Homo sapiens: one gene and its partners. The protein of the gene in region 1 purifies or fractionates together with the protein of each later gene. This does not show direct contact. Each region holds a gene or a part of one and is shown in the gene's direction. Other genes may lie near its edges. The genes, in order: WAPL, DEF6, CAMSAP3, EPB41L4B, WDR48, GCN1 and MGA.

What was found.
Region 2: the proteins of WAPL (region 1) and DEF6 purify together in Homo sapiens (affinity purification with mass spectrometry, with the first as the bait; one large-scale study listed by BioGRID). This does not show direct contact.
Region 3: the proteins of WAPL (region 1) and CAMSAP3 purify together in Homo sapiens (affinity purification with mass spectrometry, with the first as the bait; one large-scale study listed by BioGRID). This does not show direct contact.
Region 4: the proteins of WAPL (region 1) and EPB41L4B purify together in Homo sapiens (affinity purification with mass spectrometry; one large-scale study listed by BioGRID and IntAct). This does not show direct contact.
Region 5: the proteins of WAPL (region 1) and WDR48 purify together in Homo sapiens (affinity purification with mass spectrometry, with the first as the bait; one large-scale study listed by BioGRID). This does not show direct contact.
Region 6: the proteins of WAPL (region 1) and GCN1 purify together in Homo sapiens (affinity purification with mass spectrometry, with the first as the bait; one large-scale study listed by BioGRID). This does not show direct contact.
Region 7: the proteins of WAPL (region 1) and MGA purify together in Homo sapiens (affinity purification with mass spectrometry, with the first as the bait; one large-scale study listed by BioGRID). This does not show direct contact.

What each region holds. Positions count from the first base shown.
Region 1 is NC_000010.11:86,501,293-86,504,792, reverse strand, and holds part of WAPL (wings apart-like protein homolog), read left to right. Parts: intron 1-3,500. UniProt on the Homo sapiens protein: Regulator of sister chromatid cohesion in mitosis which negatively regulates cohesin association with chromatin. Involved in both sister chromatid cohesion during interphase and sister-chromatid resolution during early stages of mitosis.
Region 2 is NC_000006.12:35,304,318-35,307,817, forward strand, and holds part of DEF6 (differentially expressed in FDCP 6 homolog), read left to right. Parts: intron 1-3,500.
Region 3 is NC_000019.10:7,612,863-7,615,833, forward strand, and holds part of CAMSAP3 (calmodulin-regulated spectrin-associated protein 3), read left to right. Parts: coding exon 1-301; intron 302-2,320; coding exon 2,321-2,460; intron 2,461-2,555; coding exon 2,556-2,857; intron 2,858-2,971. UniProt on the Homo sapiens protein: Key microtubule-organizing protein that specifically binds the minus-end of non-centrosomal microtubules and regulates their dynamics and organization.
Region 4 is NC_000009.12:109,255,060-109,258,559, reverse strand, and holds part of EPB41L4B (band 4.1-like protein 4B), read left to right. Parts: intron 1-262; coding exon 263-383; intron 384-2,079; coding exon 2,080-2,167; intron 2,168-2,335; coding exon 2,336-2,424; intron 2,425-2,716; coding exon 2,717-2,786; intron 2,787-2,879; coding exon 2,880-3,049; intron 3,050-3,500. UniProt on the Homo sapiens protein: Up-regulates the activity of the Rho guanine nucleotide exchange factor ARHGEF18. Involved in the regulation of the circumferential actomyosin belt in epithelial cells.
Region 5 is NC_000003.12:39,083,016-39,086,515, forward strand, and holds part of WDR48 (WD repeat-containing protein 48), read left to right. Parts: intron 1-1,139; coding exon 1,140-1,247; intron 1,248-1,629; coding exon 1,630-1,726; intron 1,727-2,499; coding exon 2,500-2,595; intron 2,596-3,285; exon of another isoform or gene 3,286-3,369; intron 3,370-3,500. UniProt on the Homo sapiens protein: Regulator of deubiquitinating complexes, which acts as a strong activator of USP1, USP12 and USP46. Enhances the USP1-mediated deubiquitination of FANCD2; USP1 being almost inactive by itself.
Region 6 is NC_000012.12:120,156,716-120,160,215, reverse strand, and holds part of GCN1 (stalled ribosome sensor GCN1), read left to right. Parts: coding exon 1-74; intron 75-192; coding exon 193-391; intron 392-1,600; coding exon 1,601-1,756; intron 1,757-2,185; coding exon 2,186-2,367; intron 2,368-3,223; coding exon 3,224-3,304; intron 3,305-3,500. UniProt on the Homo sapiens protein: Ribosome collision sensor that plays a key role in the RNF14-RNF25 translation quality control pathway, a pathway that takes place when a ribosome has stalled during translation, and which promotes ubiquitination and degradation of translation factors on stalled ribosomes.
Region 7 is NC_000015.10:41,761,405-41,764,904, forward strand, and holds part of MGA (MAX gene-associated protein), read left to right. Parts: intron 1-334; coding exon 335-446; intron 447-724; coding exon 725-958; intron 959-3,481; coding exon 3,482-3,500. UniProt on the Homo sapiens protein: Functions as a dual-specificity transcription factor, regulating the expression of both MAX-network and T-box family target genes. Functions as a repressor or an activator.

The sequences.
Region 1 (3,500 bases):
TGGAGTGCGTGGCTACTCACACAGGTGTGATCATAACAGCAGCCTCAAATGAACCGCTGGCCACAGTGCCCTGGGTAGCTCTAGGTGGGACTATAAGCACGTACTGCTATGTCCCTGTTATTCCTTTTTCTTTTTTTTTTTGAGACTGAGTCTCGCTCTGTCGACGGGGCTCACTGCCACCTCTGCCTCCCAGGTTCAAGCGATTCTTCTGCCTCAGCCTCCCAAGTAGCTTGGACTACAGGTGTGTGCTACTACGCCCGGCTAATTTTTTGTATTTTTTAGTAGAGATGGGGTGTCACCGTGTTAGCTAGTCTGGTCTCGATCTCCTGACCTCGTGATCTGCCCACCTCTGCCTCCCAAAGTGCTGGGATTACAGGCGTGAGCCACCGCACCTGGCCTGATGGTTGCTTTGAGATAAAATAAATTAATAGAAAGTATTTAGAATACTACCAGGCACATACCGAGGGCTTATATAAATATAGTTCAGCTTTGTTTTACTTTGAGTTTTAATTGTGAGTGAAATTGAGTATCCTTCATAAGTTATTTAATTCATTATAGATATATATTTTAATGAATTGCTTCTTTGTGTTCTTGGCTTATTATTTATTCATTTATTTTTGAGGCAGAGTCTTGCTCTGTTGCCCAGGCTGGAGTGCAGTGGTGCTATCTCAGCTCACTACAACCTCTGCCTCCTGGGTTCAAACAATTCTTGTGCCTCAGCCTCCCAAGTAGCGAGGACGACTGGCATGTGCCACCACGCCTGGCTGGGTTTTTTTTGTCTTTTTAGTGGAGACAGGGTTTCACCATGTTGGCCACACTGGTCTCGAACTTCTGGCCTCAAGTGATCTGCCTGACTCGGCCTCCCAAAGAGCCGGCATTATAGGCCTGAGCCATTGTGCCTGGCCCCTAGCGCCATTTTCTACTGGGACATTGGACTTACTGATGTGTAAGGATTCTTGGTATATTAAGGAATTTACCTTTTGTGTTTCCCTAGCAACTAATGATAAGCATTTTTCATGTGTGTATTCTTTTTTTTTTTTGAGATGGAGTCTTGCTCTGTCACCCAGGCCGTGGTGCAGTGGTGTGATCTTGGCTCACTGCAAGCTCCGCCTTCCGGGTTCACGCCATTCTCCTGCCTCAGCCTCCCGGGTAGCTGGAACTACAGATGCCCGCCACCACGCCTGGCTCATTTTTTTGTATTTTTAGTAGAGACGGAGTTTCACTGTGTTAGCCAGGATGGTCTCAATCTCCTGACCTGATGACCCACCCGCTTCGGCCTCCCAAAGTGCTGGGATTACAGGCATGAGCCACCACACCCGGCGAAGTTTGTTTTCTTATCATGACAGCCATTCAGATATTTAAAGGCAGGTTTCATGTAATGGCAGTTTTCTTCCATCCCTGCACCAATTAAACCTTTCTAGTTGCCTCAACTGTATTTCATGGGTTATGGTCTCCAAGCCACTTTGTATCATTTGCACAGATTTCTTACAGGTTAAAGGCATTGTTTAAGTTTAGTCCTCAGCACACCGTGAGATAAACATTTGCTATTTCCACCTCAGCCTCCCAAAGTGCTGGGATTACAGGTGTGAGCCCCCGCGCCCAGCCAGTGAATTAGTTTTGTTGTTGTTGTTCTTTTAAACAGAGTCTCGCTCTTTTGCCCAGGTTGGAGTACAGTGACATGATCTTGGCTCACTGCAACCTCTGCCTCCCGGGTTCAAGCAGTTCTCCTGCCTCAGCCTCCTGAGTAGCTGGGACTACAGGCGCCCGCCACCACGCCTGGCTAATTTTTGTGTTTTTAGTAGAGACAGGGTTTCACCATGTTGGCCAGGCTGGCCTCGAACTCCTGACCTCATGATCCGCCCGCCTTGGCCTCCCAAACTGCTGGGATTACAGGCATGAGCCACCACGCCTGGCCTAGCATTTTAGTGTTTAGCAGCCACCACTAGACGTAGTGTAATATAGTTTGGTATGGGTCTTTTTTATGAAGTCTCTTTTGACTATTGATTTAATTGAGAACCTCTGCAGTCATTAGCCCCTCTGGGCCTTTTTTTCTCATCTGTGTAATGATGGGTTTGGTAAGAAATCAAAGGAAGTATCTTCATTTTCTTATAAGAGGGTAAAGGAAGTCTGTATATATTTGTGTGTATAGACTAGTATACAGTTACACAGATGTATACATTTGTGTGTTTATGTCTACAAAAATAATGTCTATTTGTATCTCCATCTCCATTAAACAGTTCAACTGTTTAATCTTCAACAAACAATTCATTGCCAGTCTTGTTTCATTTTTATCCTCACTAAAGTAAATTCAAGATGTTGTATTTGATTCATAAATATATTTTTTTAACAGATAAGGACTCCAAAAATATACAATTTTGGCATTTTTTATGTTTTGGCTTTTGAATAGACAACTTACATGCAGTATAAAATTCAAGAAGTATGAAAGTCTTTTCTTGTTCCTTATCCCTTAGTCATTCCATCTCTAAGAGCATCCATATCTGTACATAATGTAGAGCTGCCTCATTCTTTTTAACAACTGCATAGTATTCAGGTGTGTTGCTATATGGTAATTTAATTCTTTATTAATTGGTATATTGTTTATGAAAGCAAAAACCAGGAAACAGTGTTCTATTGAGTTTCTTGTTACTTATGTAATTTTGTGTTCGTGGAAAGTTATTTCTAAATACTTGTAAATGAAACTGCTGGCTTCAAGAGTAAGTCCTTTCTTTCACATGTACATTTTTAGTTTTAAAAGATATTACCAAATCTTAACCTGTTAAATTACATTAAAACCCTTTGGAGGCTGGACGTGGTGGCTCATGCCTGTGATTGTAGCACTTTGGGAGGCAGAGGCAGGACGTTTGCTTGAGCCCAGGAGTTCAAGACCAGCCTAGGCACCGTAGTGTGACCCTGTCTGTTAAATAAAAAGGGGAGTTAGGCAGGTGTGGTGGTGCACACCTGTAGTTCCAGCTGTTTGGGAGTGCTGCTCAGGAGGCTGAGGTGGGAGGATCACTTGAGGCCTGGAGGTCTCTGAAGCTGCAGTGAGCTGTGATCACACCACTGTATTCCAGTGTGGGTGACAGTGAGATCCTGTCTTGAGGGCAGGAAAACCTATTGGGTAGAATTAAAAATTATGCAGTGAATCTGTCCATGTAAAGCATCCCTCTCACCTGTATTTGATGATGCTAATTGAGATTTGTAAATAGCTTTTCTTAAATGTAGATGTATTTTGTAGAAGTAATTTTATTGTTTGGCATAGGGTATACATTTTGTCAGTGTTTTTCTACAAGTAAATGTTGAGGGAATTAATAATACCAGTTGGAATCATATTTGTATCTCATTTGGAAAGGTTGTAAAAATGTTCTGATAGTAAAAATTGAAGGCAACAAAAATGAATTCTCCACATACCAGATGAATAGGCAGGCTGAGGATTTATTACTGGCTGATATGCATAAATAGCCACTATTAGCCATTTAACTAACACACCAGAACTACTGCTA
Region 2 (3,500 bases), on another chromosome or scaffold:
CTCAAAAGATAAGGTGATCAGAGGATATTCCACCTGGTCAGGGAATATATATTCCCTGAGAAGGTGTCATCTAAGTAAAAACAGGGAGGAGGAAAGGGTTTGAGCCATGCAGTGACCTGGAGAGAAATATTCCAGGCTGCAGGAACAGTAAGTGCAAAGGCCCTTGGGCAAGAATATGCCTGACCTGCTGGAGGAACATTAAGAAGGCAGAATGGCTGGAGGCAAGTAAACAAGAGGGATGAGGTCAGAGAAGGTGCAGCAGGCCAGGTCACATGGGGCCTGGAGGCCTGTGGAAGGACTCGAACTTTTACTCTGAAAATTATGGGAAACCATTGGAGCATTTGAGTTAGACTTTAGGAGTCAGTCAGAAACATTCAGTGAATGGGGGACATTATACTATCTTTGGAGTCAAGGTTGAGATTAGAGTCATTGCTGCCCTCAAGGAATGTAGAACACCCAGAAATGCTCACACAAACAGTGAACAGCAAAAGAATATTATTATAGAGCAACTTAATAGGGCAAATTAATAACTGGGTTAATGGCACCCTTTTTCATCCCTATTGTTTTAAATTTTATCCTAAAGACAATATATTCTCCTGGTTTAAAAAAAGAAAACACACAGAAGAATATAATGTTAATGAAGAAATTCGGGGCTGCGCTGTGGTAGCTCATACTTGTAATCCCAACACTTTAGGAGGCCGAGGCAGGAGGATCTCTTGAGCCCAGGAGGGCTCTTCCTGCCTCGGCCTCCTAAAGCATTGGGATTACAGGTATGAGCCACCATGGCCTGGGCAATATAATGGGAACTCATCTCTATGAAAAAAAAGAATTTTTTTTTTTTTTTTCCAGACAGGGTCTGGATCTGTCACTCAGGCTGGAGTTCAGTGGCACGATCTCAGCTCACTGCAGCCTTGACTTCCTGGGCTCAAGCAATTCTCCCACCTCAGCCTCCTGAGTAGCTGGGACTACAGGAGTGTGCCGCCACACCCGGCTAATTTTGGTATTACAAAAAAATTTTTTAACTTAGCTGAGCATGGTGACACATGCCTGTAGTCCCAATTACTCGGGAGGTTGAAGTGGGAGGATCGCTTGAGCCTGGGAGGCGGAAGCTGCAGTGAGCAGAAATCGTGACACTGCACCCCAGCTTAGGCAACAGAGTGAGACCCCGTCTCTAAATAAATAAACAAAAATAAAAATGAATTTATTATAAAATTAAAACATGTTAGTGGTAATTTTTTTTTTGTGGGGGTGTGTGTGTGTATGTGTGTGTGTGACAGAGTCTCACTCTGCCACCCAGGCTGGAGTGCAGTGGCACTATCCTTCCTGGCTCACCTCAACCGCCACCTCCCAGGTTCAAGCAATTCTCCTGCCTCAGCCTCCCTGTAACTGGGATTACAGCCGCCTGCCATCACACCCAGCTAATTTTTGTATTTTTAGTAGAGATGAGGTTTCGCCATGCTGGCCAGGCTGGTGTTGAACTCCTGACCTCAAGTGATCCGCCCACCTGGGCCTCCCAAAGTGCTGGGATTACAGGTGTGAACCACTGCGCCTGGCCAAATTTGTTTTTTTGTTTTTGTTTTTGTTTTAATTTTTAGATGGAGTTTCACTCTTGTTGCCCAGGCTGGGGTGCAATGGCACAATCTCGGCTCACTGCAACCTCTGCCTCCTGGGTTCAACTGATTCTCCTGCCTCAGCCTCCCAAGTAGCTGGGATTATAGGCGCCTGCCACAATGCCTGGCTAATTTTTAGTATTTTTAGTAGAGACAGGGTTTCAACATGTTGGTCAGGTGGGTCTCGAACTCCTGACCTCAGGTGATCCACCTGCCTCGGCCTCCCAAAGTGCTGGGATTACAGGCGTGAGCCCCTGCACCCGGCCCAAAAAAATTTTGAAGTAAAGAAGAATATAATGTTGGCCGGGCGCGGTGGCTCATGCCTGTAACCCCAGCACTTTGGGAGGCCGAGGCGGGCGGAACACCTGAGGTCAGGAGTTTGAGACCAGCCTGGTCAACATGGCAAAACCCCGTCTCTACTAAAAATACAAAAATTAGCCAGGCATGGTGGCGGGCGCCTGTAATCTCAGCTCTTCGGGAAGCCGAGGAAGGAGAAGCACCTGAACCCGAGAGGCAGAGGTTGCGGTGAGCCGAGATCACGCCATTGCACTCCAGCCTGGGCAACAAGAGTGAAATTCTGTCTTAAAAAAAAAAAAAAGATGAAAGTTTCTCCCCTCACTCTGGAGAGGTGATCACTGTTAACAGTTTGTGAGTCTTCTAGATTCTTTCTGTATACAAATAAACAGGTTGAACCATATGAAATTTCTGACACTTGATTGTTTTGACCTACTGAAATACTAGTTTCATATAATTCGACCTAATCTTTGCACATGTATTTGACAAACATTTCATTCTGTAGCTTGCTTTTTTTACATGCCAGTGTAGTATGCATATCTTTCAATGTCTGTTCATATAAACATAACAAAGATCACCCACAACTTTTATTAAGCAGTGCACTATGCACCAGGTACTCTTCACTCAAAACAGCCTTTGGAGCAGACCCTATCATTATCCTCACAGAGGAGGAGACTAAGGTGTTGGAGAATTAAACATTTGCCCATGAGCACACAAGTGGGAAAAGTGAAATCTTTCCAGCTACATACAGTGGTTCCTGACATGGTATACCTGTTTCCTACTGGAAGAGCCTCAGTTTGTCTCCATTTTTTCATATTATAAACAATGCTTAATGAGCATTCTTGTATCTCTCCCATGAGTGTCTGTAGGTTGGATGATTAGAAATGCTGGGGTGGCCGGGCGCAGTGGCTCACGCCCTGTAATCCCAGCATTTTGGGAGGCCGAGGCGGGCAGATCTCCTGAGGTCAGGAGTTTGAGACCAGCCTGGCCAACATAGCGAAATTCCATCTCTACTAAAAATACAAAAATTAGCCGAGCATAGTGGCACGCGTCAGCAATCCCAGCTACTCAGGAGGCTGAGGCAGGAGAATCACGTGAACCTGGGAGGCGGAGGTTGCAGTGAGCCAACACCGCGCCACTGCGCTCTAGCCTGGGCGGCAGATTTGGAACGCGTCTCAAAAAAAGATAAGGACACGGGTAGTTTGAAAAGAGGCCAAGAGACAGCAGATGAGAATATATAAAACTTGAACACTTGTCACTTCAGAAGTGGTCAGTGGATGTTGGCATTATTCTCTTGAGGTGGTCACCCTGGGTTTTAAGTGCTAGGCATTGAGCCAGTGGCACCCCTTAGAGTGGGGATTGGTATTCTATGACCACAGATGTGTTAGGCAAGACTTTCCTGGAATTAGTGATAAAACCAAACTCAAATGGCTTAAGGGAGAGGGGATTTATTGGCTCACATAACCAAAAACTCCAGGGATAACTGCCCAGAGGGAAATGAGGGAAAAAAAGGAAATACTCCCTTCCTGGGATCTCCCACTTCCCAGTTTGCCAAGGAAAACTGAGCCCCAGGAGGACACTGAGGCAAAGTCTCAA
Region 3 (2,971 bases), on another chromosome or scaffold:
GCTGGCACCCTTGACCAGGGTGCTTACGCCACCCCACGACGTAGACAGCCTCCCCCACCTGCGCAAGTTCTCGCCGAGCCAGGTGCCCGTGCAGACGCGCTCTTCCATCCTCCTGGCGGAGGAGACGCCCCCCGAGGAGCCAGCCGCCCGGCCGGGCCTCATCGAGATCCCGCTGGGCAGCCTGGCAGATCCCGCCGCCGAGGACGAGGGAGACGGGAGCCCCGCTGGTGCTGAGGATTCCTTGGAGGAGGAGGCGTCTTCGGAGGGGGAGCCCCGGGTGGGGCTGGGGTTCTTCTACAAGGTGAGTCCCCGAGCAGGTGGCTGGAGGGTCCTGGGCCTGGGGCGGGGGCGGGTGGGGGCGGGGGGAGGTGGACAAACCCACTATTGGATGAATAGGGCTTTACTGAAGGATGGGTGGGCGGGTGGGGGATAGATGGGGAGCCAGGTATGAATGGACAGAACAGGTGTGAGTGGCTGGGTAAGGCCTCCATGGGTGGGAGAGGGGGGAAAGGGACATTTGCACGGTGGGGGGCAGGTATGTGGGGTGACAGGGGCCTCAGATGGGATTTGACCCTGTCTGTTGGGTAAGGACTTCCACAAGGGGCTGTGGGGGTGCAGTGGGGTGAGAGGTCCTCCCCCTGTGGCTTAATGAGTGAGGCCCTCGGGTATGTTTGGGGGTGAGGGGTTTCCAGTGGGGGCTGACCCAGTCATGTCCCTCCCAAACAAGGTATGGGTGGCCGGACAAGGGGGATAGATAGATGTGGGGAGGGGTGGAGAAACAGGGAGGAGTCATGGATAGACAGATGGATGAATGGCTGGTTGCATGGGTGGGTGGGTGATGGACAGATAGACGGACAGGACCAGGATCTTCAGCGCACCTCCTTGCTCATCCTCTCCTTCACCCCCTCGCCCCCAGCACGCTCCTACCACCCCTTTCCTGGCCCTGCCCTGTGTCCACTGTCTCTCCATTCCCATGGCTTTCCCAGCCGGGGACACCTAGGGTTACCTGACTGGCCTCTGCTGCCTGCCTCCATCCCGGGCCATTTTGCACTGAGTGGTCGGGGATTTTGACTGCTCCCCTTACCCTTGCTTTTAGAATGAAAGTCCTCCCCAGGGTGGCCGGGCGCAGTGGCTCATGCCTGTAATCCCAGCACTTTGGGAGGCCAAGGCAGGCGGATCATGAGGTCAGGAGATCGAGACCATCCTGGCTAACATGGTGAAACTCCGTCTCTACTAAAAATACAAAAAATTAGCTGGCGTGGTGGCGGGCGCATGTAGTCCCAGCTACTCAGGAGGCTGAGGCAGGAGAATGGCGTGAACCCAGGAGGTGGAGCTTGCAGTGGGCCTAGATCGTGCCACTGCACTCCAGCCTGGGCAACAGAGCGAGACTCCATCTCAAAAAAAAAAAAAAAAAAAAAAAAGTGAGCACAGCCCAAAGCCCTGGGGAGGACTTCCTTTTCATTTTTTTTTTTTGTTTTGTTTTCTTTTGTTTTTTGTTTTTTGAGACAGAGTCTCGCTCTGTGGCCCAGGCTGGAGTGCAGTGGCATGATCTCGGTTCACTGCAACCTCCACCTCCTGGGTTTAAGTGATTCTCTTGTCTCACCCTCCTGAGTAGCTGGGACTACAAGAGCATGCCACCACGCCCAGCTGATTTTTGCATTTTTAGTAGAGACAGGGTTTCTCCAGGCTGGTCTCGAACCCCTGACCTCAAGTGATCCACCTGCCTTGGCCTCCCAAACTGCTGGGATTACAGGTGTGAGCCACCGCGTCTGGCCTGTACTCACTTCTGACTTAGTCCTGCGCCACTGTCCTCAGCTCTGTGTCCCAGCCACACTGGCCCCCTTGTACTTCCGTGCCCCCCAGTAGGTTTGCTCCAGCCTCAGGGCCTCGGCACTAGCTGTCCCCTCTGCCTGGAACGCTCTGCTCTGTACGCCCACCTAGTTAAATCCTGATCATTCTACAGGGTACTTCCTCTGGGAAGCCTTCCTGGGTGTCTCCAGGCCAGGCCGGGGTCCTCCCGCAGTGTAGAGTGTCTGTGCCCAACACGAGCTTTTGCTGGCACTCACTGCTGTCTGCTGCTTTTGTCTTCCCCGTTGGGTTAAGCAGTGTGTGTGTGAGCGGCACCCAGTGTATCCCATCCCTGTTGTGTCCCAGTACTTAGTGTGGGGCTGTGCATACAGTAGGCACCAACTAAGTGCATTTAGAACAATGATGAAAACAAAAGCACAGGTGGGTGGCGGGCAGGCTGGGTGGAGGGAAGATGGGCCTCCAGCCATGTTGGGGGAGGGGGTGGCTGGCTGGACTCGGCGTCTGTCCCCAGGATGAAGACAAGCCTGAGGACGAGATGGCCCAAAAGCGGGCCAGCCTGCTGGAGCGGCAGCAGCGGCGAGCAGAGGAGGCGCGGCGGCGCAAGCAGTGGCAGGAGGTGGAGAAGGAACAGCGGAGGGAGGAGGCCGCGAGGTGAGGCCGGGCCTGCCCGGGACGCCCGCTCCTTGGCCTGTCTGCCACCGCGGACCCCGTGAGCGGTTCTGATGCCGATTCCCTGTGATCTGCAGGCTGGCCCAAGAGGAGGCCCCGGGCCCAGCCCCGCTTGTGTCCGCAGTCCCGATGGCGACTCCAGCCCCTGCTGCCCGGGCTCCAGCCGAGGAGGAGGTGGGCCCCCGGAAGGGGGACTTCACGCGGCAGGAGTACGAGCGCCGGGCCCAGCTGAAGCTGATGGACGACCTCGATAAGGTGCTGCGGCCCCGGGCTGCGGGGTCCGGGGGTCCAGGTCGGGGCGGGCGGAGGGCCACCCGGCCTCGCTCGGGTTGCTGTGACGACTCAGCCCTGGCACGAAGCCCAGCCCGCGGCCTGCTGGGTGAGGACCCTTGGGGGACGGGGCCTGCCCAGTGCCCTTTCCGGGGCTCACTGGGTGAGGCCCCCATGGGTAAGGGGGGAGGGGGAGGGAGATGTAAGCAGGGGTGCCGGGAGG
Region 4 (3,500 bases), on another chromosome or scaffold:
TGGGAACAACAGTGGAGAGAAAGACAGTAATAACTAGGATGATGCTGTATCACCCAACAGGGAGGACATTAGAATGCTTCTAGGATTTTGAGTGTACATATGACTACCCAAGTGAGAGTTAAGTCTTCCCGAAAGGAGAGAGTTATACATTGGGGCGGGGGGCTGTGCTTTATAATGATGCAAAATGCCTTTGGACCTGGTTGCAGCAATAACTGAAATCATTCAATGTCTCCTATTTTCCTCCCTTTTATGAAACTTACAGCGGAGCTTGGGGAGTGCGAGCTTCCAGAACACACACCAGAGCTTGTGTCTGAGTTTCGGTTCATTCCAAATCAGACAGAAGCAATGGAATTTGATATCTTCCAGAGATGGAAAGAGTGCAGGTACCTTGATGCAACCGTCTAGCATTCTGATGTATCTATTTTGTCATAAATAAGTGTTGATCACACTCCTTTATCTACCAGTAGAATTGTTCTGTTGATGGCCATAAAACTGCAGCGCCAACTCTTCTCTCCTTGTGTCAGTCCTGTTTTTCCAAAGGCCCACATCTTGTCCTTTTTATTTTTGAGAGAGTCTCGCTCTGTTGCCCAGGCCAGAGTGCAGTGGCACTATGTTGGCTCACTGAATCCTCGACCTCCCAATGCTCAAGCAATCCTCCTGCCTCAGCCTCCCGAGCAGCTGGGATTATAGGCGTATACCACCATGCCTGGCTCATTTTTCTATTTTTTGCAGAGATGAGGTTTCACCACGTTGCCTAGGCTGGTCTCAAACTCCTGAGCTCAAGTGATTGTCCCACCTCAGCCTCCCAAAGTGTTGGGATTACAGGCAGGAGCCACCACACCTGGCCGTCTGTCTCTTAAGAGATGTGCAGCAAGAACCAAACCACACTCCTTTTCTCTCTCTGCAAACAGAGCCTGGTTCTGATTTGTTTATTGCGGATGGGGGAGCCACCACTGTCTTAGTGACACCCCAGGGCATCCCAGGCACTCTCACATACCTGCATCTCTGGGACCTCAGGGCCTGAACCTTCTGAAACAAGCCCTAAATTTAGAAATATACCCTGTTGTATAGGAACATACATATTTGAGACCGTGTGCTGTACAGTGTTACATTTCAGGAAGTGTGATCATCATACCTAAATCCAGCAGTGTCATTTATCCCCTTTGTTTTTTCCCTCCATTCCCCCTGCAGGCACCACTTTCATGCCTGGACTACCAACGCCACCCCTCACTCACGGGTTTCCTAGATGTTAACCTTTCCTCCCTCCCATCCCATCTTCCCCAAACACTGCCTCCTCCAGGTCACCCTTGGACTCTGGAGCTTAGCATGACTTTCTCTTATCCCTCAGTCATTCTGAAAAGCTCCTGTGACTATTTTAGTGGAAGGTGGCATTAGTCCATTCTCATTGTGTAACACTGAAACAACGTAAATGTCTGCGGGTATGGCACACCCCACCCACACACTTACACATCCACTCTCCTCCCTGCAGGAAGCCATCATTGGCAGCCTGTAGTCTTTTCCTTTTGCATTTACATATACAACTTGTTTTGTTGTTTCCTTAAGTGATCATATTGTAAGCACTGTTCTGTGATTTTGTTGTTGTTGTTGTTGAGATGGAGTTTCAGTCTTGTTGCCCAGGCTGGAGTGCAATGGCACGATCTTGGATCTTGGCTCACTGCAACCTCCGCCTCCCAGGTTTAAGTGATTCTCCTTCCTCAGCCTCCCAAGTAGCTGGGATTACAGGCATGTGCCACCACGCCCAGCGAATTCTGTATTTTTAGCAGAGATGGGGTTTCACCATGTTAGTCAGGCTGGTCTCGAACTCCTGACCTCAAGTGATCCACCAACCTTGGCCTCCCAAAGTGCTGGGATAACAGGCGTGAGTCACTGCGCCCAGCCTGTTCTGTGGTCTTTCTAGTCAATTAACAGTAAGGTCTTGGGAATCTTTTTGTATTACTATAATTTGGCATCCCTCATTGCTTTAATTGCTGCATAACGTTCCATAGTAAGGCCGTGCCCTTCAGAATCCTGTGGGCTTACGAGTCGCAGTTTACATGTATTTCCATTGGTTTTTCTAAGGGGAAAGAGCCCTGCCCAGGCGGAACTCTCCTATCTGAATAAAGCGAAGTGGCTGGAAATGTATGGGGTAGACATGCACGTTGTCAGGGTAAGAACTGTGTGCGTTTAAGTAATTTGGTTTTGCTGTTACTGAAAAATGTATGAACATTATGCAAACAAAATAACTTGTGGTGAGGAAACTGTTTTTGCATTTTGCATTCTGCTGTGTGACGACCTGTTAGAACCCTCTACCGATTGTCACTTCGTTTGTTTGTAGGGAAGAGATGGCTGTGAATATTCTCTTGGACTGACCCCGACAGGCATATTAATCTTTGAAGGAGCTAACAAAATAGGCTTATTCTTTTGGTAATTTAGTTTTGTCTAATATTAAAAATGTCTTTTCCTATTTTGTGGTGGAATTCTATGTGATGGATGATTATTGAGGGGTATCTGCAACACCCAGATTCATCCTCAGAGCACACGGTGCTGCTGTTGTGGGTCTGTGGCAGTTGCGCTGAAACTTCTGGATAATCACACTTGGATGAATGTTTTTATTTTTTTTTTAGTCTAAGCTTTAAAAGTAGAAAGGAAACTGCTATTTGATGTGTAGATAGTTTTACTGCAGATTGTGCTTTTAAAATGCTTTCTGTCTGACTAGGCCTAAAATTACCAAAATGGATTTTAAAAAGAGCAAATTGACACTCGTGGTGGTCGAGGATGATGATCAGGTAGGCCTGGCTCCCATTTCTTCCCCCTTGCTGTGAAAATCCTGTGTTGGGGTTGCAAACGCCCACTCGAGGCCCTTGTGCTTCCTCTTTAAGGGACGTGAGCAAGAGCACACGTTTGTGTTCCGGTTAGACAGTGCCAGGACCTGCAAACACCTTTGGAAGTGTGCAGTTGAGCACCACGCATTCTTCCGACTGCGGACGCCAGGAAACAGCAAATCCAATAGATCCGACTTTATCAGGCTGGGCTCTCGCTTCAGATTCAGGTAGGGAGCCATTTCTGCAACACGGATCACGTCTTCTGAAGGAGGGCAACTGTGATTTCTTTCTTGTATGCGAATAGAGTAGTGGATTTGAGTCCAGAAACTTAGGTTGTGTGTCCCATCCCCACGTTTCTTAAGGTGAGTAACTGAAGCTCTTTTGACCCCCACCTGGTCATTGATAAAATGGAACTAATAACAAAATTGTTAATAACTGACATTTAGTCAGAGCTGTGCTGTTCAATACAGTAGGCACTAGCCACACGTGGCAATTTAAGTTAATGAATATGAAATAAATTTTACAATGTAATTCTTCAGTATCGCTAGTCATATTTCAAGCGGCCAAGAAGCCACATGTGGCTAGTGGCTACCATATTAGACAATATAGACACAGGACACAGGATCATTTTGGAAAGTTCTGTTGGCCAGCACTGTGCCAGAACTGTTCACACACCCT
Region 5 (3,500 bases), on another chromosome or scaffold:
CAGTGGCAGCTCCAGAACTAATTGAGTGTTTCAAGAAGAAGCTTGCGGTTAGTGGCATTAACCTGCTGTGAGTTGATTTAAGATGTGACTAACATCATGGATTTAAATAAAGAGGGTGGCCTCTGGGTAGAGTCTTAAGGGCAAAAGCCAGGTAGAGTGAGTTGAGTAGTGATTTGAAGGTGAAGAAACAGAAAATTTGACTGGATAATCTTTGAAGAAATTTGATTGGAGGGGTAGGCAGGAAGCGGCGGAAACTAGAGAAGATGTAGGAGTCAGAGGGCCAAAGGAAGCTTTTGATTTTGTTTGGTTTTGTTTGGATATTTGGGTATTTTTCAGATGTAAGAAATTTGAGCATATTTCATTGCTCCTGGGAAGAAGCCAGTAGAGACATTCATGGGTAGATGACAATACAAGGTCATCCCAAGAAGCAAGAGGTGAGGGGGACCGGAGCACAGTCAGAAGGGACACCGTTTTCCTTGCACCAGGGAGAATGATAGAGAAAGTTAAGGGGATTCTGTCAAGGCTTCTCTTTGTTTTGAGAAAAAGGAATCAGAGTCATGTGCTGAGGATAATGGGGAAGGTGGCAAGGTCAGAGGTAGAAGAGAGATTTAGTTGAGATGGACTGCAAGACAGTGACCCCAGGGCTCAAGTCTCCAGTAAATGAGGGAGAGTGGCAGGTTGCTAGATGGCAGTGAAGGAAAGGTGTACCGTTTACTGTTGCTAAATGACATAGGCCTCAGAGAAATAAGTTTTTACATGGGAGATGGTAGAGTAATGGTCTCCATGGAGCATCAAGGAACAATGGGATGTGGGAAAATAAGCAGTCCCCCTTTGAGAAGATGGCCGACAACTGGGACCCTCGAAAGAGCCACGTTGCTGTTAAGATGAGGTGGTATATTATATCAATATCAGCACAATTAAATACAGTTTCTTCCCAAATACTATTTTGTGCTTTTTTAATTTAAATTTTTTATAGCAGCAGATTGTTATTTTAAAAAAGGACCACATTCTTTTTGAAATGTATTTTAGACTGTTTCACTTAGACACATGTGAAAATATGTAAAATTTTGAATAGCAAAGTCAGAATCAAGTGAATTCACCACTTAATATTGATCATTATACTTTCTTTTGATGTATAGGCATGTAAAGTTGAAGATCTGGGCAAAGTGGATTTTGAAGATGAAATTAAGAAAAGATTTAAAATGGTGTATGTGCCAAATTGGTTCTCAGTAGACTTAAAAACAGGGGTAAGTTAGCAATTGATACTTGTATGATTTGGGATAATTGAAGATTTTCATTATAGCTTATAATTATTATTAGTTACAGAGTCCTGTGTTTTTAGGTGTGAAAAAAAAAATTTGTGTTAAAACTTAAAATGCAAAATGGAATAAAAAAGAAAAAAACAAAATTAAAAATATATTAAAAAAGAAAAAAATTTAAAAGTTACAAAATGCCTTTGGTATCCCAGGAAACTAAATTGTGTTGTTGCATTGAATCACACAAAACACATTTTGGTTCCTGAATTTATGACTTAGCACTTTAGTCAAATAGTACAAATAAATGAAGGTTTAGAGACTTGTTTGGAGAATATATTCAAATGGGATGCCACTAAGTTTTTTCTTTTGATAGATGTTAACTATTACTTTGGATGAAAGTGATTGTTTTGCTGCCTGGGTTTCTGCAAAAGATGCTGGTTTCAGCAGCCCTGATGGGTCAGATCCAAAATGTGAGTTTAAGTGTCCTTCATTTTTTTCCTCCCTTCTAAAGAGAAGATGAATATGAGCTGTTTTTTGCTAAGTACTTATCTTTGTAAAAGTTCTCTATATTTTGTTGACTATGTCCTAAAAATGTGGTATGTACAAATACCTAATGTATACAAATCATTTTAGTAATTTCATATGGAAATAGCCGTTTAAAGAATCTGATTCTCGGCCAGGCGCAGTGGCTCACACCTGTAATCTCAGCACTTTGGGAGGCCGAGGCGGGTGGATCACGAGGTCAGGGGATCGAGACCATCCTGGCTAACACGGTGAAACCCCGTCTCTACTAAAAATACAAAAAATTAGCCGGGCGTGGTGGCGGGTGCCTGTAGTCCCAGCTATTCGGGAGGCTGAGGCAGGAGAATGGCGTGAACCCGGGAGGCGGAGCTTGCAGTGAGCCGAGATTGCACCACTGCGCTCCAGCCTGGGTGACAGAGCGAGACTCTATCTCAAAAAAAAAAAAAATCTGATTCTCATGTTTGTTTTTAAATAATAGCTGTATCTGAACAACCAAGTAGAATATGTCTTTGCTCCATAGCATCATTGCTTTAAACATTCTAAGATAAAATTTTAGCAGAATTGGCAAAATGACTAAAGTCTTTATTTTAGACATCATTCGCATTGGGTTAAGAATGTAACATCAGAATATGTACAAACTTACAATTTTTATTCTATTTTTAGGTTAAAGCCAAGTAACTCGCTTTTCCATTTTATCTCTTTTTAATTAACTTTTTTGCAGTGAATTTAGGAGGACTTTTACTCCAAGCACTCCTGGAATATTGGCCTAGAACACATGTGAATCCAATGGATGAAGAGGAAAATGAAGTAAACCATGGTTAGTTTTTATATTCAGATAGTTGCATAAAAAGTTAGAGGTACTTACTTAAAAGGTACTTACTAAAAGGTACTTACTTAAACCGTTAGCTAAAATATTTGTGGTGTACTCAGTTTATTGTCCTCTCTTCCATATCTCAAAGTAGGAACATCCATCCAGTCTTAACTGAGACTGAGATTCCAAAAGAGCAGACCACCTTATGATATGGCTTTTAGTGAGACTGCTCAAGATAAATAAAATACTCTATATTCAGATGACTTTTGTCTTAAAATGAGGCACCTTAACAGACTTATTTCCAAAATATTCTTCAAGGTACCTCTGATCTTTTGGATTAACCTCCAAAGCTAGGTAGTTAGCTGCATCAGAAAGCCAGGTTTGTCATTGCATAGTCACTCTTCATGTTGGGCTGAAATGTTGGTATTTCCTAGTCTCATGGCCTACCTGATTTTGACTCTGTTTCAAAAAAAAATTCAAATTCCAACTCAGAAGTGACAGGGCATATGCTCAAGCATGTGTAAAGAATTAATGTCACTGAGGACATCTGAAACGTGTGTGTGCCATAGGCAGTGGCAGTAACGTTCCCTGAGCAGCAGAGGAGAACATGTTTTGAATATATGCATTTGGCTCAGTTTGATCAAAGGAAGGGGAAACAAGAACTTAGAATTTCACATCCTCATGTGTAACCTACAGCTGGTTGAGGAATCATTGAGTCCCATCGACTGAGGCTTACTCTGCTGAAGATTCTCTGCTGGCCACCAGGAGTGAGCAACAATGGCGAGTACCTCCTGCCAGGGACTTTGTTCTGGCTGTCAGATTCACCCATAATGATATGTGGAATTTAAATCTCTCACATGAGGATGACATGCTTCCTTGAAAACCAGTCTTCTGATGTTCCTGTCAGAGAG
Region 6 (3,500 bases), on another chromosome or scaffold:
TGACCAGCAAGCAGAAGGAGATGCTGCAGGCCCAGCTAGACAGGGAGGCGCAGGTCCGGAGGCGGCTGCAGGAGGTGAGTGGCCACCTCCGCCACATGCTCAAGCCGGAAGAGTGCTGGGCAGCTTGGTCCTGCTGCTTGCTGTCACAAGCAGGGCCCTGCTGACCTGCCTTCTGGACAACTCTGCTTGCAGCTGGATGGGGAGCTGGAGGCGGCGCTTGGACTGCTGGACATCATCCTGGCCAAGAACCCGTCCGGCCTGACCCAGTACATCCCTGTTTTGGTCGACTCTTTTCTGCCCTTGCTGAAGTCTCCCCTGGCTGCTCCCAGGATCAAGAACCCCTTCTTGTCCTTGGCTGCCTGTGTCATGCCCTCTAGGCTCAAGGCTTTGGGTTAGTCCTTGTTTGCTGGCTGCAGGGATGGCCCAGGGGTGCCCCTGAGTGCTTGGACAGGGTGTGCCCCTGAGTGCTTGTGGGGAGGTGGGTGGTGACCTCAGCTGCTGAGTTTTGTTTTCTTGTGGAAGCAGCCTTGGAGACTCAAGCTGGATATGCTTAGGAGAGACGTAGTGCCTCCTCTTCTCTCCCACTTCACATCTGTGCCCTCCCTCTGAGGAGTAGGTTTTAGATGCTAGTCAGTGTTCGATCTTTGTATACCAGTTTTAAAACTAAGAAGTCAGAAGTTCAGTGGCAGTGAGGATGGTTTGGTGGCTCAGCCCAGCCCAGATCTCCTGAACAGCCACATGACAGCAGTGAGCAGAGGCCCTTGAGACCTTTAGCTTCCTCTTAGCTCTGGAGAAACAAACACCAGGTAGGGTGGCTGGCAGTTCTGGTGGCCTTGCTTCTGTGGGTTGTTTAGTGGCCTTCAGCAGACTTCTATCCTGGCCTAACGGTGATGTTCCCACGGGTGAGGCTAGAATCTGGGAACTGTTCTGAGTGGAAAAGTCAGCTGGTGCATATGAAACCTGCCAGAAGTGTCACCTGGCTGTCTGGGCTTGTTGCGTAGAGGTGGAGATGCTGCACAGATAGAGCTGTACTCTTGGCTGAATGACTCTTTGGTGGCCCTTGTCTCCTGTCAGCGTACTCATTTCTTAAATGTCCAAAGGGCAACTCTCTGCCTACCTGCCCTCTGAGGCTGTCACAAAGATCAAGTGAGAAATTAGGCTGGGGACATTTTGGCGAAGCAGAAAGATTTTTTTTTTTTTTTTTGAGACGGAGTCTTACTCTGTCACCCAGGCTGGAGTGCAGTGGCGCCATCTTGGCTCACTGCCAGCTCCGCTTCCCGGGTTCATGCCATTCTCCTTCTTGAGCCTCCTGAGTAGCTGGGACTACAGGCGCCCGTCACCACGCCCAGCTAATTTTTTGTATTTTTAGTAGAGATGGGGTTTCACCGTGTTAGCCAGGATGGTCTCAATCTCCTGACCTCATGATCCGCCCGCCTCGGCCTCCCAAAGTGCTGGGATTACAGGCATCAGCCACCGCGCCCAGCCGCAGAAATATTTTTTTAAGTCAGAAGGATGAGGCACTGGGTCCCCTGTTTTAGCCTGGGCTGGATTCCACATCTCTGTGTGTCATCTCCTGCTGGGTCTCTCCTCTTCAACACAGGCACTTTGGTGAGCCACGTGACCCTGCGCCTGCTGAAGCCAGAGTGTGTCCTGGATAAGTCCTGGTGCCAGGAAGAGCTGTCGGTGGCTGTGAAGAGGGCGGTGATGCTGCTGCACACCCACACCATCACCAGCAGGGTGGGCAAGGGGGAGCCAGGTAAGGGCTGGGACGGGATCAGGGGCACCAGGCGGTGTGAGCTGGTGCCAGGAATGCTGCTCAAGGCACAGCGTCACCCAGGGCCTCCTGAGCCTGGGGGATTGGACCATATGGAGGATTTCTGAATTGAACCTTCGTAGTCTGTGAATTGCAGTGAGCCCAGTTGAGGGTTTACTTTTTGTCACTGGTGTCCCCATCTCTGTTTTAACTCTCACATCCTGGAACTGGGCAGTGTTTGGCAGTAGAAGCAGAATTGGTTTTAGAACTGGACTACCAGCTGCTGTCTCTGTCCTCGTGCCATGTGCTTCCAGGTGTCAGAACGGGCCTCTGGTCCATCCGTTCCCTACTTTCCCTGAGGATAGAAATAGGCAGCAGTGGCCCGGGTCCCTGCCCTGCCTGCAGAATCTTATCTGCTTCTCGCTCTCACAGGTGCTGCGCCCTTGTCCGCGCCAGCCTTCTCCTTAGTCTTCCCGTTTCTGAAGATGGTGCTGACGGAGATGCCCCACCACAGTGAGGAGGAGGAGGAGTGGATGGCCCAGATTCTTCAGATCCTCACTGTCCAAGCCCAGCTGAGGGCCTCCCCCAACACCCCACCCGGGCGGGTGGACGAGGTTGGCAGGGAAGCTCTGCTCTCCTCTTGGTTTAAAGGGGATCAGGGAGGCAGGGCCTGTGGACACGTTTTGTCTCATGAACAGTTCCTGGTGGGGAAATAGAGAGTGTATGTTTATACCAACAGCAGCCTCACACAGTGTTGTGGGTTTTTTAAGGCAAAAACGGGTCAGACTGCTTCTTTCATGTGATTGTAGACTCTGGCTCTCCTGCCATGCCAGTACATGTCAGTTCACCTGATTGACTTTGTTGGCTGCATGAGATTCTGTGCTATGGATGTACCATGTTTTACTTAACTCTTTACCTGTTGATGAGTTCTTAAGGTTGTTTCTAACTTTTTCCTGTTTTGAACAGCACTGTGATGTGCCCTCTTGTATGTATATGCCCCTTACTTAACCAGTGTGAGCATTTCTTTAGGACAGGTTCATTGGACATGGAATTACTAGATTATATGGCATATTCTGAGCTATACTCTCACCAAGAGTTTTCTTTTCTCAAAGCCTTAATGCAACCTCAGATAGTATTAATATCGTCAGTGATGAGTGAAAGAATGATAATCTCATTTTATTTTGCATTTCATTTAAAGTTGAGTGTCTCTTCATATATTTACGGTCTTTCTGGATTTCATAGTGTGAATTTCAAGCAAGTTTCAGAATTTAGTTTTTAGTTCCTGAGGATCATGGTTGACTGGGGTTAGCACCTGTGGACCTAGTTGTAAACTTAATGAGGTTTCTGTGGTGGGGCCGGTTGTATGATCCAGAATGTTCCCCCGTGGGTGAGAGGATGCCCTGCCGTTGGCCGCCTGGGTTACAGACCTCCCCACAGCCTCATCTCGACTTACCTGCCGTTCTCTCCTAGAATGGCCCGGAGTTGCTGCCTCGCGTGGCCATGCTGCGTCTTCTGACTTGGGTGATCGGGACGGGCTCGCCTCGCTTACAGGTGATGTGGTTTTCAGTTGGCTGTTGCTGTGACTCAGTTCGTGACCCAGACCTCAAGTCCCAGTGTAAAGGGTGGAGTCCTAGTTTCCTTTCAGCCCTTACTTTTGGACTTTGGTAGAAAGACTGCTTTAGAGAGCCAGCCTGACTGTTGTTAGCTAGTGAGGGGTTTTGCTTGGGTCCTGCCACTGGAGCTGGGG
Region 7 (3,500 bases), on another chromosome or scaffold:
TTGGTTAGACTAGGAGTTGATCTTAAAGTTGATTATTAAAATCTAAGCAGAGCACAGGTGTTTTGTATCTCCTCGCAGTGGTGGAATACCTACTACCATTCAGTGATGCTCTTTGGAAATAATCATGGTCACATTCCTTAAAAGTGTAAGCCAGAAATCCTCTTACAGTTTAACAAAAAATAATTTCTGAAACATCAACAATTGTTAATGGAATTTAAAAATTCTCTTAAGATGTCAGATTAAGTTTTTTTTCATTAGAGAAATTGTATAGGCCTTAGCTGTGTTTAAAGAAAGAGTGGATCAATTTTCAATAATACCACTATTTGTATTCTAGGCCTTCAGTGAAATTCAGGGACTAACAGATCAGGCAGACAAATTGATAGGACAGAAAAATCTCCTGACTCGAAAACGGAATATTCTGATACGGAAAGTATCGTCTCTTTCAGGTGAGATAAGTAAATAATCTCTGGTAAAGAGCATAATTATAGCTTTATCAAGAAGAAATCCTCAGTAGATCTTTCAGATACTTAATTGAAAGCTTGGCTCCCACAGTTTACAGCACAGTTATCCTTTGACTGGGTGGTGGGTTGTTTCTTGTGAATTGTAATCACCTTACTTTCCATAGTTTTTGGGAATATAGTTAAAGCAACTAGATTTCTGTTGACTCTGTTTCTCATTATGTGGCGTAATGCTGAAAGTGCTAATGTATTCTGTTAACTTACAGGTAAGACAGAAGAAGTGGTCCTGAAGAAGCTAGAGTATATTTATGCAAAACAGCAAGCACTAGAGGCACAAAAAAGAAAAAAGAAGATGGGATCAGATGAGTTTGACATATCTCCCAGAATTAGCAAACAGCAGGAAGGATCTTCTGCATCATCTGTAGATCTTGGACAGATGTTTATAAATAACAGGAGGGGGAAACCTTTGATTCTTTCCAGAAAAAAAGACCAGGCCACAGGTAGGAGGGACATTCTTCGCTTTCCTTAATGTAGATATACATCAGTTGACTTTAGTGGACTGACCACCTTCTCTTGTCCACATTTTTAGTTTTGTGTGGTTTTTTTTTTTTTTTTTTTTTTTTTTTTTTGGAGACAGCTCTGTCGCCCAGGCTGCAGTTGCAGTGATGTGATCTCAGCTCATTGCAACCTCCACCTCCCAGGTTCAAGCGATTATCTGCTTCAGCCTCCTGAGTAGCTGGGACTACAGCGAGCACCACCATGCCCAATTTGTTTTTTTAATTTTTTAGTAGAGATGGGATTTTGCCCTGTTGGCCAGGCTAGTCTCAAACTCTTGACCTCAAGTGATCCACCCGCCTTGGCCTCCCAAAGTGCTGGGATTACAGGTGTGAGCAACCACACCCAGCCCACAGTTTTAGTTTTAATTAAATGAATTAAAGATGGGTTGTATAAAAAGTAGAATATTAACTACATTCGATTTTGGTTTCTGGTTGTAATACACACTCATGCAAATCCTGAGAAGTTACCAGTCCTGGTAGCATATTAGTCTATAGTCATGTATTTTTAATGAGTAGTTTTTTAAACTTATCTTTTCAGACTTATACTTGACTTCGTGATTTCCCTGCAGTTCTACTGATGGGTTTAAGAAGTTGGGTCTAGCTGAGACCAATAAATGGGAAATTTTTTGTAAAATTTAATTTTGTCAAATCAGGCTCTATTTTTCTTTCTTCCTTTTTTTTTTTTTTTTTTTTTTTTTGAGACAGAGTCTTGCTCTGTTGCCCGGGCTGGAGTGCAGTGGCGCGATCTTGGCTCACTGCAAGCTCCACCTCCTGGGTTCATGCCATTCTCCTGCCTCAGCCTCCCCAGTAGCTAGGACTATAGGCGCCTGCCACTACACCCGGCTAATTTTTTTTGTATTTTTAGTAGAGACGGGGTTTCACCGTGTTAGCCAGGATGGTCTCGATCTCCTGACCTCGTGATCCGCCCACCTCGGCCTCCCAAAGTGCTGGGATTACAGGCGTGAGCCACTGCGCCTGGCCATCAGGCTCTATTTTTCATCAGATCACTTACTTATTAATACATTACTATTAAGAAACAGTAGGCCGGATGCGGTGGCTCACGCCTGTAATCCCAGAACTTTGGGAGGCTGAGGCGGGCAGATCACCTGAGGTTGGGAGTTTGAGACTAGCCTGACTAACATGGAGAAACCCTGTCTCTACTAAAAATACAAAATTAGCCAGGTGTGGTGGCTCATGCCTGTAATCTCAGCTATTTAGGAGGCTGAGGCAGGAGAATCACTTTAACCCGGAAGGTGGAAGTTGTGGTGAGCTGAGATCACACCATTGCATTCCAGCCTGGGCAACAAGCACGAAACTCTGTCTGAAACAAAACAAAACAAAACAAAACAAAAACCCCAAAGTAAATTAGTCTTAACTTCTTATTACCATCTTGATTTTGGAAGTAAAGTTATATTGATTTTATGTGTTACTTATATTCTTAGAGAATGGTATATCTGGCTGGGCGCAGTGGCTCATGCCTGTAATCCCACCCCTTAGGGAGGCAGAGGCAGGAGGATTGCTTGCACTCAGGAATTTGAGACCAGCCTTGGGCAACATGGTGAAACCCTGTCTCTACTAAAAATACCAAAATTAGCCGGATGTGGTGGTGCACACCTGTAGTCCCAGCTACTTGGGAGGCTGAGGCAGGAGAATCACTTGAACCCGGGTGGCGGAGGCTGCAGTGAGCTGAAATCACACCACTGTGCTCTAGCCTGTGTGACAGAGTGAGACTCCATCTCAAAAAAAATTAAAAAAAAAAATGGTATATTCTTTTTTACTCTTTAAATGTTTGGATAGCCCAGTGTATGAGCCAAAAAAAATCTGGTGTGGGTATTTTTTTTTTTTTTTTTTTGAGACGGAGTCTCGCTCTGTTGCCCAGGGTAGAGTGCGGTGGCGCAATCTAGGCTCACTGCCAGCTCCGCCTCCCAGGTTCACGCCATTCTTCTGCCTCAGCCTGCCGTGTAGCTGGGACTACAGGCGCCCGCCACCACGCCTGGCTAATTTTTTGTATTTTTAGTAGAGATGGGGTTTCACCGTGTTAGCCAGGATGGTCTTGATCTCCTGACCTCGTGATCCACCTGCCTCGGCTTCCCAAAGTGCTGGGATTACAGGCGTCAGCCACCGCACTTGGCTGTTTTGTTTTGAGAAGGGCCTCACTCTGTAGCTCAGGCTGGAGTGCAGTGTCTCGCTTGCAGCCTTGACCTCCTGGGCTTAAGCAATTCTCCCACCTCAGCCTTCCTAGTAGCTGGGACCACAGGTGCACACCACCACACCCGCCTAATTTAAAAAAATTTTTCTTGTAGAGATGGAGATGGGGTCTCACCATGTTTCCCAGGCTGGTCTTGAACTCCTGGGCTCAAGTGATCTGCCTGCCTCAGCCTCCCAAAGTGCTGGGATTACAGGCATGAGCCACCACACCCAGCTGAATGCCTTTTATCTATAACTAATTTCTGATCTTTCTTACAGAAAATACCTCACCCTTGAA